Linked DNA regions of Homo sapiens: region 1 is linked to region 2. The links come from fine-mapping of genetic effects on gene expression. Tissue or cell type: skeletal muscle. Region 2 holds a variant in brackets; the other region holds the start of a gene. All regions are shown on one strand. Distances are between the middles of the regions.

Region 1 (2,755 bases), 54 kb after region 2:
TCACAAAGATGTAGGAAGGGATAAGGCAATGTAGGAAGGGATAAGTAAAGGAGGCAAGCTTCATAAAGAAGATCTTTTTTAGCTTAAGGGTAAAAGATGAACAGAAGCTTGACAGGTAGAAAGGGAATGTGAGAAAAGACATGGATGGGAAAAGCCTATTATTTCAATAAACACCAGCAATTTCCCTATCAAACAACTGCTCAAAGGCTTGCTGTTGTCTCTGAGGAATTATTCAACTAGACCACTGGGAGATTAAAGCATAAAAATTGAAGTTAAATTTTAAAGAAGGCCGGGCACCATGGCTCACACCTGTAATGCCAGCACTTCGGGAGCCCGAGGCGCGTGGATCATCTGAGGTCAGGAGTTCGAGACCAGCATAGTCAACATGGCGAAACCCCGTCTCTACCAAAAACGCAAAAATTAGCCGGGCGTGGTGGCCTGCGCCTAGTCCCAGCTACTAGGCAGGCTGAAGCGTGAGAATTGCTTGAGGCCGGGAGGCGGAGGTTGCAGTGAGCTGAGATCATGCCGCCGCACTCCAACCTGGGAGACAAAGTGAGACTCTGTCTCAAAAAAATTAAAGGAGAAGTTGGGCTTTTTTGTGGAAGACCTTGAATTAGATATGGGTAGTTTGCTTTGGCAAGTCAGAGACTTAAGCAGGGAAAGCGAGAGAACAGTAAGCAAGAAAAATATACTGCAGGCTATAGATTGGACATGAAGAGAGACAGTATTGAAGGCAAGTAAATTCGGTAGAAGGATTCAAATGCACTGTTTCCTGTTATCTCAGTGACAGAAAAAAAAAAAAAAAAAAAGGATTCAAATGCAGTACAGCAGAGAAACCATGAGAACCAGAACTGGGTATAAGTGAAAACAGAAGACAGGAGAGGTTAGTTCTGACAGACACTTGGTAATAAGACTCTACAAGGGCTTTAGACTAAAGAAGTGATGACCGGGTGGGGCCAAGGATATGGAATCAGGGATGGGTATATGATTCATAGAAACAGGAAAGTTTGGGGGGTCTAGTTTGCTGATAATTTCACCCTTAATTTCCTTTCAAGCAAGGGGAAACTGAGGCTCTGAAAAGTAAGGCGATCCAGGGGCACAGAAGATACTTAGGCTACTTTCCGAACACAAAGCCTGGGGTTACAGGGGCTGCTACAACAGAGCCGGCTTCGAAGCGGGGCTAAGGTGGCCGAACCACACTCATCTAGCGTGTGCCTGGCAGGGAACCAGGCCTGGGACAGACCTGACAGCCATGAGGTTTCCTCCTTTTTCGCCTCTGCCTTTACTCACCAGCGCCACGGCGTCTGCACCCAGCTACCACTAACCTCGCGCCGCGGTACTCACACACGCGGAGACCAGGATACCCACAGTCCAGTGCAATTCTTCCGGAAGTGTGGGCGGGCTCAACACCCTACTTCCGTTGCTGTGTTGCGGAGGTGACCTAGAGACAGGAATCGGAAGGGCGGGATTTGGAGCCATAGCCAATCGTCGCATTAGGCCGAATCGCGGGGGCCGGCTAAACGCGTGCGGGGGAGGTGGCTTCTTCCGGCCGGGCCGAGAGGTGGTTACATTCGTTGAAGGACACCAGCTGCGGAATTTGCGGCTTTGGCAGGTGGGTGAAGAGGGGAGTCCGGGCTTGGACCTGGCGCCTGCACGTTGCAGGACCGCCCGCCGTTTCTGGCCGAGGAGCAACTCGAGTTCTTAGCTTTGGAGGAGAGAAACGGTGGGGAATGGGAAAGGAGCTAGAAAAAACGAGGGGCGCAAGGGGGCGGCCAGCGGGTGAGAAGCCTCGAGGTGAGGCGGATAGGTGCGCCCAAGGGCTCCCACAGTTTCCGAAGACCCTTAGATTGCATTCGCCAGTGGAGAAAAATGAGGCCCTCCGCGAAGCGTCCCTCGAGGTCACCCAGTGACGTAATATTGGACGAGGACTAGGGCTTCTGATCCCCATCACCGGCCGAATTAACCTCTTTTCTTCTGTATGTCCATAGCTGTTTGTTCCCACCGAGCTGTGCTTTAGGAAGCTGGCCAGCCGGGCCTCCTTTAGGTGCGCTGCAGCCTTTTTCAAAGCGAGTGAATGTGGCCCGGCCCCTACAGTTCGCCAGGCCCGCTGTAAAAGGGTTAGATTTCAGTCTATAGACGATCAGTGGGAAGGCCTTTCCTAGGAGGTAACCAGAACAGAGAGCTGTAAACTCCGTGAATGCAAGAGGCTGCTTCTGTTACCTGAGTGGTTCTCACTCATCTTTGCCTTCCTTACCTCGTGATCTCACCATTCCAGGTAGGTGTTAAGTTAGAAAGGAAAATAGCAATATCGAGGAACAGAGAAAGTAACAAGAGCTACTGGTCACTTTGGACCTTTAATAAAGTGCCCATCTCACAGGTGGAGAGAGGCACGGAAGGATTAGTTACATTTAAGAGCAGTTAGTGGCCGGGCGCGGTGGCTCACGCCTGTAATCCCAGCACTTTGGGAGGCCGAGGCGGGTAGATCACCTGAGGTCCAGAGTTCGAGACCAGCCTGAGTAGTATGGTGAAACCCCGTCCCTACCAACAATACAAAAATTAGCCGGGCGTGGTGGCGCGCGCCTGTAGTTCCAGCTACTCGGGAGGCTGAGGCAGGAGAACCGCTTGACCCCGGGAAGCGGAGATTGCAGTGAGCTGAGATCGCGCCACTGCACTCCAGCCTGGACGACAGAGCGAGACCTTGTCTCAAGAAGGGCAGTTAGCAACTTAATTAAAACATACCACCGTTTAACAACAT
Region 2 (2,717 bases):
GGTCTCAGAAGATGGCCTGGCCCATCCTCTGCTCACCACCCACCCTGTGCAGGTATCTTGTACCCCACTTTGAGCCAGTTTATGAACCCAGGGCCTCCACAGGGAGCTAATTAGGAGCCTAGAAGCCAAGAAGGGAAAAGGATGGGGCAAAGGGGGCTGACTTTAACCCATTCTTCCCCAGCAGTGATGCAAACTGCCTTTCCCAGGAAGTTAGGCTGGAAGCTCCAGGCTGTGAAGTGGGGGAAGAATCAGACTCCTCCTCCTCCTCCTCCTCCTCCTCCTCCTCCTGTTGTTCCTCCTGGTCCTCCTCCTCCAGCTTCTCCTTTTCTTGGAGTCTGCATGGCCACATGGCTCTGCCTGAGCCCATCTGGCAGCCTTCCTTGGCAGGGACAGAAGGGGTGATCTAGAAGGGGTGATCCCTCCATGAAGCATGGAAGGGAACAGGGCTAGGTCTGTGTTTGGCGCTCACCCCATCCCTCCACTCCCTGGCTTCCTCTGGCCTGGGGAGTTTTGTTTTTCACCCTCCAGAGGGGGAGGACATGGGGCCACACCCTGGCCTGTCTCTCAGGCTTGTGTGGGTGGAGGCTGGGAAGGGAGTTGGGCTAAACTTCGCTGTTGCCCGAGGCCATGGCCACTTCCCGGCAGGTTGCCAGCGTCGCTACAGCCCAGACCAAGGCAGAATAATCTCCGGATGAGCTGGTGGCACCGCTGAGCCTTTGGTCTCACCAGGGCTTCCTGTTGCTGGCAGGCGGGGTGGAGCGGAGCTGCTGGGAGGCTGCTGGATAGGAGAGGGGTCACGGCTGCGGAAGAGGAGGTTCTTCGGGACACCCGTGGATGGACACGGCAAGGTCAGTAGGAGACAGAAAAAAAGAGGGTTCACTTAGTGCAGAATCACCCTTATCCACTTCCCAAGTCTCCTTAGGTTGTGGTTAGAGGTCCTGCTGTGGCACCTCTGTATTTCTTGGGCCTCAGCAAGGCACTTTATCCTCTTCAGGTCTCAGTTCCCTGATCTTTGCAGGCAGGAGAATCGTCCCCACCCCAAAGACAAGACAGGGTGGAAGAGATGGAGAGTTTCACGCAGAGCACAATCAGGCATCTTTTATTCTTTTCTTTCCCTCCAACATCCCTAGGAAAGAGCAAGGCTCAGGATGATTTATCCTCTTTTCACTGATGAGGAATCTGAGGCCCAGAGAACAGTCATGAAGTGTGATCAGACCCTGAGGTCTCCAAAAAGATAATGTCCTTGCGAACTCCAGGGATTCTGGCATCTTGCTGTACCCACCCCAGCCCACACGGCAGGATCCTATCCAAGTCCCTTATCCACCCGGACACTCACTTTAGCTTTTACACCCTCAAGGCTGAGACCCTAAGGACACGCCCTGGATCCAAGGAGTCCCTGGCCCCTCTGCTAATATGCGCCACCTGGACTCCCAGAGGGAAAGCCGGTCAGCACCCCACATG[C/GC]ATTAGCACCATGGGCCACCCCCAAGCCCTACCCCAGGAGAAGCTCGTGGTGGCAAAAAGAACCTAAGCATTTGAGGCAGGTCACCCAAGCTTGAATCTCAGTCTGCCTCTCATCTGTGACCCTGGCGAGCCACTCGTCCTCAGGAAGCCTTCACTTTCCCTAGTGCACGGCGGGCACACAGCTCAACGTGGGACTGTGAGGATGGGAAATGAGGGGTGCCATGCACCCTGGAGGAACTCAGTGAACAGTGGCAACTGTCACTTCCCTGGGGCCCTATGGTCCTTCCTTTCTCCCCAGCCTGTCCACACTAGCATCTTCCTCAACTCCTGGTTTTCAGAGGGAAACACTTATCGGTCATCTGCTCCACAGGAAACACCAGGCCAACCACAGCTGGGGATAAAATAGCACAACCACACCCTGCCGTCCAGCGCCTCCCAGCCTGTGCCCCTTCCTAGTACCACCAGCAACCATCAATCCCGTCTCCTCCTGCCTCCTCTCCTGCAATCCACCCCGCCACGACTATCGCCATGGCAGCCCTGATCGCAGAGAACTTCCGCTTCCTGTCACTTTTCTTCAAGAGCAAGGATGTGATGATTTTCAACGGCCTGGTGGCACTGGGCACGGTGGGCAGCCAGGAGCTGTTCTCTGTGGTGGCCTTCCACTGCCCCTGCTCGCCGGCCCGGAACTACCTGTACGGGCTGGCGGCCATCGGCGTGCCCGCCCTGGTGCTCTTCATCATTGGCATCATCCTCAACAACCACACCTGGAACCTCGTGGCCGAGTGCCAGCACCGGAGGACCAAGAACTGCTCCGCCGCCCCCACCTTCCTCCTTCTAAGCTCCATCCTGGGACGTGCGGCTGTGGCCCCTGTCACCTGGTCTGTCATCTCCCTGCTGCGTGGTGAGGCTTATGTCTGTGCTCTCAGTGAGTTCGTGGACCCTTCCTCACTCACGGCCAGGGAAGAGCACTTCCCATCAGCCCACGCCACTGAAATCCTGGCCAGGTTCCCCTGCAAGGAGAACCCTGACAACCTGTCAGACTTCCGGGAGGAGGTCAGCCGCAGGCTCAGGTATGAGTCCCAGGTAAGGAGCTGTGCAAAGGGAAGCTCCTCTTCCCTAGTGGTGGCTGGTGAGAGGTCCGGGGATGGCCTAGTGCTAAAGCTGGGGTTGGTCCTCAGGGGCTGAGGTCTGTGGGAAAGCACTAGCGTTAGGTATCAGGGCTGGTTAACTGGTGCATGGTGGGGCAAGGGCCAGTT

Alleles and levels. Positions count from the first base shown, and alleles are read on the strand shown. Sizes are in standard deviations (SD) of each study's normalised expression.
With allele C in place of GC in region 2, the expression in skeletal muscle of the gene that starts at base 1,395 in region 1 is higher (moderate effect, 0.50 SD a copy in GTEx).

Evidence for each region. PIP is the estimated chance that this variant, and not a neighbour inherited with it, causes the effect.
Region 1: it holds the start of PDCD11, and the variant in region 2 is fine-mapped to the expression of PDCD11 in skeletal muscle (GTEx, PIP 0.92).

The regions. Positions count from the first base shown.
Region 1 is chr10:103,395,266-103,398,020 of GRCh38, reverse strand. It overlaps PDCD11 (programmed cell death 11), which reads right to left and starts at 1,395. Exons shown (of 36, transcript NM_014976.2): 1 at 1,291-1,395. ATP5MK (ATP synthase membrane subunit k) reads left to right here and starts at 1,546. Exons shown (of 5, transcript NM_001206427.2): 1 at 1,546-1,612; 2 at 1,989-2,275. RefSeq lists enhancers at 1-409, 410-911, 1,569-1,818, 1,969-2,058, 1,451-2,283.
Region 2 is chr10:103,449,214-103,451,930 of GRCh38, reverse strand. It overlaps CALHM2 (calcium homeostasis modulator family member 2), which reads left to right. Exons shown (of 4, transcript NM_015916.5): 2 at 646-848; 3 at 1,832-2,544. The coding sequence starts at 1,990. Among named protein-coding and RNA genes, the nearest start is that of CALHM2, 1.8 kb to the left of the region's middle. RefSeq lists enhancers at 1-570, 519-888. The variant C/GC (reference allele first, on the strand shown) is at 1,462.